Linked DNA regions of Homo sapiens. The protein of the gene in region 1 purifies or fractionates together with the protein of each later gene. This does not show direct contact. Each region holds a gene or a part of one and is shown in the gene's direction. Other genes may lie near its edges. The genes, in order: SMARCA1, CECR2 and HMGXB4.

The links.
Region 2: the proteins of SMARCA1 (region 1) and CECR2 purify together in Homo sapiens (affinity purification with mass spectrometry; 3 studies listed by BioGRID and IntAct, with this or other methods). This does not show direct contact.
Region 3: the proteins of SMARCA1 (region 1) and HMGXB4 purify together in Homo sapiens (affinity purification with mass spectrometry; 2 studies listed by BioGRID and IntAct, with this or other methods). This does not show direct contact.

The regions. Positions count from the first base shown.
Region 1 is NC_000023.11:129,467,787-129,471,540, reverse strand, and holds part of SMARCA1 (SWI/SNF-related matrix-associated actin-dependent regulator of chromatin subfamily A member 1), read left to right. Parts: intron 1-214; coding exon 215-337; intron 338-2,635; coding exon 2,636-2,768; intron 2,769-3,754.
Region 2 is NC_000022.11:17,554,460-17,558,213, forward strand, and holds the end of CECR2 (chromatin remodeling regulator CECR2), read left to right. Parts: 3' UTR 1-3,692; downstream 3,693-3,754. UniProt on the Homo sapiens protein: Regulatory subunit of the ATP-dependent CERF-1 and CERF-5 ISWI chromatin remodeling complexes, which form ordered nucleosome arrays on chromatin and facilitate access to DNA during DNA-templated processes such as DNA replication, transcription, and repair.
Region 3 is NC_000022.11:35,281,436-35,285,189, forward strand, and holds part of HMGXB4 (HMG domain-containing protein 4), read left to right. Parts: intron 1-2,526; coding exon 2,527-2,608; intron 2,609-3,754. UniProt on the Homo sapiens protein: Negatively regulates Wnt/beta-catenin signaling during development.

The DNA.
Region 1 (3,754 bases):
TGAGTTTTAACTATGGAATATCATGTGGCACAAGAATGGTTTTTACTTCAATAGGATCATGGTAGCAGAAATGTGGAGAGGACCGTGTGTCATTCTGGCTATGATTTTATATTGTTTACTCTTGAAATAACTCTAAAGATTGATATGTGTATATACAGCCTTAGTAATTAATTTTTCTCATCAGTTTACTCTTAGTTTATCTCTTGATTTATAGGTTCCAAGGAATCCTGATATCCCAAATCCAGCTCTGGCTCAAAGAGAAGAGCAAAAAAAGATTGATGGAGCTGAACCTCTTACACCAGAAGAGACTGAAGAAAAGGAAAAACTTCTCACACAAGTAAAATATTTTCAATGGCTGTAATACTTACAGTCAATCAATAGAAAAAAAGAAAATATAGATCACACTTTTTATTGTATGGGCCTAGTATCCTAGTGTGACACACCAACAAAACTCAGGGCTATTTTGTAAACATGTTTAGACCAAATCTCCTTATTTTTAAAAATTGATCTTATAGAATATGCCCTTTTGGAAATAGTGGATAGTATGTATATGCAAAATATAAGTGTCAAGTATTAGCAATTTGACATACATTTTGCCAATTATAATAAGGTCAGTGAATCCACATTTGAATTCTGATAGACAGTAGTTATTAACATATTCTTTTTTGTTTTTTGAGACAGTCTCGCTCTGTCACCCAGGCCGGAGTGCAGTGGTGCGATCTGAGCTCACTGTATCCTCCACCTCCCAGGTTCAAGTGATTCTCCTGCCCAAGCCTCCCGAGTAGCTGGGATTACAGGCACCCACCACCGTGCCTGGCTAATTTTTGTGTTTTTAGTAGAGATGGGGTTTTGCCATGTTGGCCAGGCTGGTCTCAAACTCCTGACCTCAAGTGATCCACCCACCTCGGCCTCCCAAAGTGCAACTGATACTACAGGTGTGAGTCACCGTGCCAAGCCTGTTATTAACATATTCTTGAAAATTTAAATTTCTTTTGTTTATAGATGTGAATTGTCTCCTGAAGTTATATTCTACTAATTTTTTATTAATGGAATAATTTCATAATTTTCAAAATTCTTTTTATCTTTTTTTATAATTTTCATACAATGATGAGAGATTTCTGAAGCTTTTATTATTATTATTATTATTTAAGGTGATCATTGTATAACAATTATTAAATTAGGAAGGTTTCCATTTGAACAAAATATTAATGCTTTTAAGTCATTATTGCTATCATGAGTTTTACGAGTGTTCTACTTCTAAAATAAACTATAGAAGATAAAAATTTCAGCATAGAAGGCTTGCAAAATAAACAAAATGTGTACCGTAGGACATTACTTTAGTATAGAGGGTTGCCAGCAAGATTTATTTATTCAACAAATTTTGAACAATGTGCGATGCATAGTAGTAGGTAATTCTCCACGTTAATTATTGAAAGATAGTTTTTATATTTGTATATTATTTATTATATAGGTTTTTTTTGCTATAACGTAATTTTATTGTATGGATTTTCACAAATTACATTCATAAGTTTTTGAGCCAAATGCCTGGAAGTAATAAAGTTTAGTTTGAAAATATAATGGCAGATGGCTGAATATTAGAACTTACCACAGAATAAAATAAAACATTTAAATATTCATGTTCTATTTTCAAAATGTATTTCCTGAATGTAAAAGTAAAGTTATGGCTTTAGAATGCTACATGACTTGGAGTATATTGTGAATGTACGGTATAACATGAATATACAGTCTCAACTGAGATAATATTTTAGTTTGTAATTAGAAATATAATCAGTTTTCTGCTTCTCCTAGTATATGAATTCATTTTTGTCCTTCTCTGCTGCCTTAAATAATTAATCTTTTTCAAAAAACCATGGCAGTACGTAGGAACAAAATGTGGGGTCATCTGAAATCTTTATCAACTAAAAGCCAGGGATAGAGTTTTGCAGTGTCTGGAGTATCACATTTATGTGAGTTGGGGCTCGAGGAGTGGAAGACAAATTCTTGGTCTTGTGACTTCACAGACATGCTAATAATGCCAAGGGAATTTAAAACACTGGCTAAAGTGTTTTATGTTTTAGTAAAGAAATTGAGTGGCTCCAATAACGTTCTGCTTGTAGAAGTTCTATTTATGAACATAATTTAGAACAGAAATTATTTATTCACACTAGTTCAGAATGATGTAAAGAGCTACAATTTTTTTTTGCATTATCTTTTGGTTATTCCTCAGTGTTCTTTTGATTTAGTGCATCCACATTTCTCTCTTTTAATTTATGTAGGAACAGATCTGTGAAAAAAATCATTGAAGTACTAGAATATCACGACTTCAGCATTTATATTAGCATTTTTATTTTCATGCATTTGTATTTTAATGTAGGCATCTATAAAATATGAAATTAAAAACTACAGATCTTCGAACTATGTATCAACATTCTCTTTGTAATAGAAAAGCAGTTATTTCTATAACAACTCTCACTCAACTTTTGATTCCAACATAAAATATGTGCAATTTTATAAGGAGAAACATTTTAAGTCTTTTAAAGTGTTTTTTAATGTATCATTGTATAGAAGTAAATAGGGCAATAAATGGATTTATTAATTTAACCTCTATTGATAATGCTTAACTTTTTGTTCACAGGGTTTCACAAACTGGACTAAACGAGATTTTAACCAGTTTATTAAAGCTAATGAGAAATATGGAAGAGATGACATTGATAACATAGCTCGAGAGGTAGAGGGCAAATCCCCTGAGGAGGTCATGGAGTATTCAGGTTTGTATATAATTTGAAACATGGTGTTGTATTTTAACGTTATTCATTTATTTAGCATCAATTTAATTGTACCTTTGTTCAGAGATGTTTTAAACTTTTATGAATAAGACATAGATGAGAGTATAAACTATAATTGTATTTCTATGAAAAGGTTATAAGAAAGGTTATAAGATTTATCCTAACAAACTGACTGCTATTGTCTCTATCACCTAGCTAAAAGAGGCAAATAAAGCTCTGATAAAACAAGGGTGGCTCTTGGATAAGCATTGACAAAATTAGTTTCCCACCTTCCCACCTCTGGAATTTGGTCTTCTGGTTCAGTTCTGAGATTCACATTCAGTGGATTGAATTCGTGCCTTTCTTTCTAGGTCGTCCTTAAAGTAGAGAGTTCCTGTCAGGCCCATTTAGATGCTCAAACACCCTCAGAGTTCCACCCTATTCCAGAGAGTTCCTGTGGGTCCCATTAACTTGGGGCTAGCGGGCGTAGAGCTGAAAAGATTGCTTTAATCAATCTGTTAACTGGTCCTCAAATCCTCTCCCTCTCTTACTCACCTGTGTTGTTGAGCTCGACCAGAATCAGTTTAGCTGCTGAAGCATATGGATTTTTTTTACACTTACTGGTTTATTATAAAGGGTATTGTAAAGGATACAGATGAAGCGTGTAGGGCAAAGTATGGGCCAAGAGGGCGCAGCGCTTTGGTGCCCTCCCTGGGCGAAACCTCTTCGTGTTTAGCTATCCAGAAATCTTATTAAAAATAGGTAAATATGTCTAGCAAGTTTTCTATATGTAGTACATGGGACTTTTCTAACTTCCAAATAGGTTCAGCTCTTAAACTTATCATTTGAAACAAGATGTTTAGAATCTAGAGCATTTTTTGTCATTGAAACAATGGCAAAGTAGGTTTAAGTTTACAAAGTAGGTTTAAGTTTCTATGATAGCCCCTGCCCCAAATCTATTTAACCCTACCACTGAAATTCTGTTTTTG
Region 2 (3,754 bases), on another chromosome or scaffold:
ACATATGCTGTCCGTGGAAAAGGAAGCTAATCGGAAGCATCCATGATACAGAGAAATGAAAGCCAAGACACCAGTTCCAGGATGATGGAAGTTCATATCCGTACGCAAATGCTGAACCTGGTGCTGCTGCCTAGGGCTCAGGCAGATTTGAGAGTTGAGTAGGGAACACAGGTGCCTCTAAGGTATAATGCACAAAAATACAGATTTTCTCTCAGAGAGGTTTTAATTTTAAATTTGATGTATTTGCAAGTGGATTGAGTTTTGAGCCTGTGTTCTCACTGGATCCTAATTCTTGTTAGAAACCTATCACTGGCATAACCTGGTTTAGAAGAGTGAAGAGGACAGAAGGATTGTGGATGGGTCTGCCCTTTAGCTAGTATCCGCTAACATGGGGCATTACTACTTCAGTTTCTGTGTTTGTGCAGAAGCAGGGAGGAGGTAAAAAGCTAGTTTGGAGCTGGTTAGACCTGGTCTAGGCCCAGAGAATTTGGCCACTGACAGCCTTTCTCTTTTCCTGGTAATGCTGGTTTGAATCAGAGGCCTCTCACTTCTCCTTAACAGGAGCACTGACACTGTGGGCCTCTCCCCATGACTACCCCAGGGGCCTGGGTGGGAGTGGCTGTAAGCAGCAGTTGGGCCATTGCCCCCTTTCCTTCTGCCCTCGTGGTCCTTGAGCAGTTGTGTGCACACTCTTCCAGGTAATCCTGTCTCCTCTCTCTCCCAGTGACCGCCCCAATCAGCTGTTGCTAGAGCGATGCTGTGAACGATACAGGAAAAGTCAGTAAATCCCTTTATCCTTAATCTCCCTTCTTGGTTTTCGACAGAAAATATTAAGGAAGAGCAATAGGAAATAGAACTACTGTATTATAACACTGTGAACAAGAACATCAGCAGCAGCAGAATTGTCAGCCTTCCTGCGTCCTGTGTGGGAATGTGTCCATGCCTTATAGGTACTAGTGCTTCGTCCATTGTCCAGGGAGTGTCCTGAGCTTTCACTGGTCTTTGAAGTGCAGATCTGCTATAAGCTGTCTGGAGCTGCAAGGTTGCAGGAATCCACAGGAGCGTGAGCTGCTGTGAACCCCTAGCCCACCCATCCCCAAGCAGGATCTTCTTCTCACCTTTTCTTCCTCCTCTAGCACTTCTCTTTCCAAGTGTCTTAAGCAGATGCAATGTCTTAAAGCAGATGCAAATGCATTTGCCATCTTCTCCATTAGGAAAATGATGGTTATGTGATATGTTATATTTAGGAAGTAGTGTGTAAGGTATCCTGAAAAGGTTTGCTCTCAAGCTAGAAGGACATTTCACCCTGTGGGTCACTGTCACCTTGTCAGCGTGCCGGCTCTCAGTGGTCCCCAGGAGGATGGGGATAGCTGAGATCGTGGAGAATGGGAAATACCATTGCATCTCTTTGATTTAACACTCATGGCTCACCTTTAGTAGAGTTGTTAATAAGTTAGAAACTTGTGTCCCTAAGGCCCAAGAGAAAAGATGAGCTTCTTGGGAGGATTCTGGGTTTGTTTTCCCCTCAGAATTAAAAAATAGTTTTTAATTCAGCTACTTTTTCCCCTCAGTTAAAAGGTAGCAGGAGCTATTGGCTGAAATTTGTTACAGTGAATGAATGTGGAGAATAAATAAGAACAAACCCTGTAGGATTCTTGTTGACGTAACTTTCCATCCCACCTCTCCGCCTCTCCTTCATCACCAGCCTTCATCAGGTTGGTTTAGTTTACCTGGCCGTACACACGAGCTGCTCATCAACAGTTCGTATCTTCTCACTGAGCCCGGGCCAGATGCTCTCAGAAGGCCTTCTCATGCTCCTCTTCGTTAGGCTTAGTGAAAACCTTAAGACCTGCAGTTTGTGCCCCTCAGTTCAGTCAGACCTCAGCTTTAAATGTCGATTTACTCTGTCTTGTTCCCTGAAAGTGTTTCTTGTGACTAAGCATTTGGTGTCATTATCCCATGCCATTTATCTGCTGTATAGTTACTATATTATTTTTGCTGATTCCTACTGCTGGCAGATGCCATCCCAGGCCCACAAAATCCCAGTGTTGCAGTCACCACAGCTGTCAGAAACAAGTTTGCAATCCATACTTCTTGGTTCAATTTTTTTTTTTAATGGACATTCAAATCTGTAAATACTACACTGCTCTTAAGACCTGATTTGAAATTTCACAGGAAGGCCTAATCCTATAGTCACAAGGTAAGGACAGTTGAGTAGTGTAAGAACCCCAACCTGCTTGCAGAGAACCTTGGTTTTCATAGAAAGGAAAGGCTGAAGGTTTTCTAGCATTGTTGCCCTTCTTTGTCTGTCAGTCAGTTCACCCTCTGTGATTCTCCATGGACCCGCATTGCAGAAAATCAGTCCCATATATTAGTGAGCCATGTACTGCCCAATCCGGGGGCTCCTGGGGTGTGGTGTGTCCACCAGTGACTCTCCGGACACTAGCTTCAGTAAGGATACTTCTTATTTCGGTTGAGAATGCAGAGGCTTTTATTCGTGGACTCACATCACTGCATAGCACAAAGAATGTGATTGCCATTTGCTGCGTGAGAAAAAGCTGGGCTCCCTATTTCTTTTTTGGGTTGGACTCTGCCGTGCAGCCATAGGACACCAAGCCTCACGCACTTTCCCCTTGGGACAGTAGTGTTTGGGTGAATGTTACTGCATCCCGTTTTTTTTCTTTTCTTTTTTTTTTTTTTTTTTTTGAGACGAAATCTTGCTCTTGTCCCCCAGACTGGAGTGCAATGGCACGATCTCGGCTCACTGCAACCTCCACCTCCCAGGTTCAAGGGATTCGTCTGCCTCGGCCTCCCAAGTAGCTGGGACTACAAGCGCGCACCACCACTCCCAGCTAATTTTTGTATTTTTAGTAGAGGCGGGGTTTCACCATGTTGGCCAGGCTGGTCTCAAACTCCTGACCTCAGGTGATCCACCCGCCTTGGCCTCCCAACATGCTGGGATTACAGGCGTGAGCCAACACACCGGACCTTCATTTTTTAAATTAAGCTGGGACACAAGTTTTGCCTCCAGGCTGGATGTTGATCCTGCTCTGTGCTAGACAGATGTGCGGAGGGACTGTTCCGGGCTCGGCTTGACCTTTTCCTACCTAGTTTCTCCCTCTTGTCCTGCACAAGAGGACTAACTGAACTCTAACGTCAGAACGGCTGACGAGCAGTTGATTGTCCTTGCTTGTGTTGTTGACAGGGGTGGGTGGGGTGGGAGCAGGGGTATGGATATTGCATAAGTTATTGAAATGCTGACCCCCGTTCAGGAAACCATGCAGCCCCTTCCCTTCCCTTCCCTTCCCTTCCTTTCCCTTCCCTAGCCAGGGCTCAGGTACCTCACTCTCCTGCCTTGTGCGTAGCTCCTGGGGCCCCGGTCAGTCCCCAGCAGCCTTGGCACACAGTGTCTGGAGCCTCTGCTCCTGCTGCAAAAGCAGAAACCATGTGAACCTTCTGGCCAGTACTGGAAAGGGGAATGCTATTTATTTTTATATTGTGTATATTTTGTCGTGGTCTGCTGATTCCCTGTTTCACTGAGAGCGACACTTACCTCAATAGTTAGTTCAATATTGTGTGTTGGATAATTTTTTAAAAGAACTTTTTAAAAAGCTTTTTGATCCTTGGAGGTCTGTAGATTTATTTCCATATGAACTGGTTATTTTGTATAAAGTACATGCTTAAAATAGCAAGGCTCCTCTGTGTGTGTGGTGTGTCTGTCCATGTGTCATTTCCATATCAGGGCAAACCCAGA
Region 3 (3,754 bases), on another chromosome or scaffold:
TTATGAAGGAAACCCTTTTCTTCAGTATGTGAATTTGGATCTATAGTATATTGGCCAAGAATTGTGATTAGTGTGACAGCTATAGTTAGCCTTATAGAATAGGAACATTAACCTTTTACAGTATTGTGTTTGAGAAAACGTTGTTAAACACCTTCCTTGTAAGTTTTATAATATGGCCAAACAAGCTGTGAAATCTCTCAAGCATATATACTTTCTAATGTTCTCAGTATTTAATAGTGAGATTGATTGTACAGTTGGGAAAGATTTGGCAGTGTGTAGACTTCCACAAATTTTTCTTTCATCATGTATTCTAGCAAATGTCAGGCATATAGATAAGCCATTATTAAAATATTAGTATGAAATTTAACAAACATACCACAAATTTTATCTCCAAATAAGTGCAATCTCATTCAAAGCAGTTACCTTGGAAGGTGTTCTAGGAATGTTTCTATTCATCAAATGATTTCAGAATCGCTTTTGGAATTAAAGTTGGAGTCATCACATAAGCTTTTTATTGCCATCAGCCTCGGTCTTTGTCCTTTGAGGGTCGTTATTTTATGGGAACAACATGAAGAACTAAGGCAGCTAGGCAGAGTGCACGATCGAGCTTTGTTTAAAGCAAGATACAACTCTGAAGTTACGAGACAGGACTGTGTGGCTGGTTTGGTTTTCATCACAAAACCTGACTCTTAAGGCAAACAAAAGCCCCCAAGGGCTTTTAAAGCACCATACATTCATGTCATATTTTTTGTTGTTGTTGAAACGGAGTCTCGCTCTGTCGCCCAGGCTGGAGTGCAGTGGTGCAATCTCGGCTTACTGCAAGCTCCACCTCCCGGGTTCACACCATTCTCCTGCCTCAGCCTCCCGAGTAGCTGGGACTACAGGCGCCCACCACCATGCCCGGCTAATTTTTTATATTTTTAGTAGAGACGGGGTTTCACCGTGTTAGCCAGGATGACCTCGTGATCTGCCCGCCTTGGCCTCCCAAAGTGCTGGATTACAGGTGTGAGCTACCCCACCCGGCCACATTCATGTCATTTTAATAACTGTAGGGCCAAAAAGGACTAGGAGTAGATGAAAGACGGAGAATCATATTTTGATGCTTCCAGATGAGTTTTGGAGGAAAGCCATACTGAAAATATTTGTTTGTTAGATTAAGATTATTAAGTGATAACTCTTTCTTTATTTTAAATAGTTAACTTTTTCTGTAAGGGAGCAACATATGTTCTTTCTTGGGCCCATAATGCATGGCCCTGAAAGTCAGGGCTACCTGGGTTGTGGTTATAACTGCCAGGGTCTGGTATTATTACTAGCTTAGTGGTGGTACCCTCAGCAAGTTACAGTTTCTCTGACTTTATTTTTTCCCATGCTCACAATGAGAAATTTGGATAGATGAATCTAATTGCATGTCTCTTTCTAGATAGGAAAAACTTAACTTTTTCCCCTTAGACCACGTATAATTGTGAAATGGAATGCATAGAAATATAATCTTCTGTTTTATATATTTCTTGTTGAACTGACTTTAAAAATAATTTGATTTTGTTTCTCAAAAATCATATATTCCTTTTGGCATTGTCAGAATATAGTGAAGAACAAACATGCCTCAGGTAGTACAGAGCTGTTTGTTGAAGTGAAGGCGTTGCATCTGACAGTGACTACCAAAGAATTGTCTTCAGTTATTTGTTCACTTCTCACCTTGAACCCAAAGAATGTGAACAATCAAATAATGAGAAGCTACAAATGACAATAAAAGCAGGATGAGGGAAATTACAAGATTAGAAATCAAAACCAGAGAAGCAAAAAGAACATAGATTTGGCTTTTGGGTTTCTGGCTCCAAAGTTTAAAAGGAAATTATGTGGTTCAGATTTTCAAAGATGAGAAAAATAGACACCCCAGGAGTGGTAAAGATTCTCTTAGCACTTAATTCTGAAAGAAATGTGTAACATGGGATTGTATATAGGGAGAAGGAAGGTCTTTACAAGTAATTTAGCATGTGGTTTTTACCTACTAAAATTAAAACTGATGTTCATCTCTGAGTGGTAAGTAACATGGATTAAAAATGTATTTTCCTGGCCAGGCATGGTGGCTCAAGCCTGTAATCCCAGCACTTTGGGAGGCTGAGGTGGGCAGATCGCCTGAGGTCAGGAGTTCGAGACCAGCCTGGCCAACATGGTGAAACCCCATCTCTACTAAAAATACAAAAATTACCCGGGTGTGGTGGCAGGCACCTGTAATCTCAGCTACTCAGAAGGCTGAGGCAGGAGAATCGCTTGAACCCAGGAGGCGGAAGTTATAGTGAGCCAAGATTGCGCCACTGCACTCCAGCCTGGGCGACAGAGTGAGACTGTATCTCAAAAAATATATATATATATATTATCCTGTTTAGGAAAGCTGGTTAGTAGTTTGGAACTCTTCCCTTGATGAAAAAGTTTAGGTATCCTTCTATTTTATTACTATGGATTCAGGGTTACTAAACCTGGGTTCTAATCAAGTCTTACCCTGTTGTATCTTCTATGCGGCATTAGCCAAAAAAGAAGAACATGTCGGCCTACCAGGTGTTCTGTAAAGAGTATCGCGTGACCATTGTGGCTGACCATCCAGGTATAGGTAAGAACATTACTGATCTGTAGCGCTTTTGCTTTCCATTTATATCTTGAAGCAGTGCGATTAATTTCTTCTTCCTGTAGCATTAGAGCATAAATCTTGTTTCTTTCCTCAGTTCTGCAAATCACTTTAGATTTTGCCTTAGTTTATCTCATCTGTAAAAGAGATGAACTTTCTATACATATCTCTTAAACGGATAAGGTGGGAAACTATGTAAAAATAAATGTTGTAAAGCACATACATAAATGCACAAAAATATACAATTGTTTATTTCCAAGATTCTACAATTGGCCTTTTCCTTAAATTGCCCTTGGATGTAAAGTTATAATGAGATATCTTGTATTATATTGTTGTAAAGATGCTCTTCAACTTATGATAGTGTTACATCCTGATAAACCCATTGAAAATTGAAAATACTGTAAGTCAAAAATGCATTTAATACACCTAGCCTACAGAACATCACAGCTTAGCTGAGCCCACCTTAAATGTGCTCAAGACACTTACATTTGCATACACTTGGGCAAAGTCATTTAACACAAAGCCTGTTTTATAATAAAGTGTTGAATATCTTATGTAATGTATTGAATACTGTACTGAAAGTGAAAAACAGAATGGCTGTATGGGTACTAGAAGTACAGTTTTTACTGAGTGCATATTGCTTTTGCATCCTTATAAAGTTGAAAAATCAAAAGTCAAACCATCATAAGTCAGGGACTGTATTTGTCTCTGTATTAGAAGTTAATGAGGTAAGAAAAACACTATACCAGAGATCCTGGACACATGTCACTTAACCGCTACAAATTTCATTTGCCTAATGTGTAAAATCGCTGCCCTACCAACTCCAAAAGACTGCAGTGTTAGGCACACATGAATATGCTTTATAAAGCATAAAACTCTTATACAATGGAAGGGTAAGATTACACATCTAGAGGATTGCTTCTGAGCTGCTCTAGGGAAATCCTTCTTTGGTTCTAATCATTCAGAAATTTGGTAAAAACCTAACATCTTTTTTCAAATTCTACACATATTTTTTAACCTAAGTTGATAGGCCTTGTATTGTGGGATCAAATTAAAGACACCAGAGGCAGGATGCAGTGGCTCATGCCTATAATCTCAGCACTTTGGGAGGCTGAAGCAGGAGAATTGCTG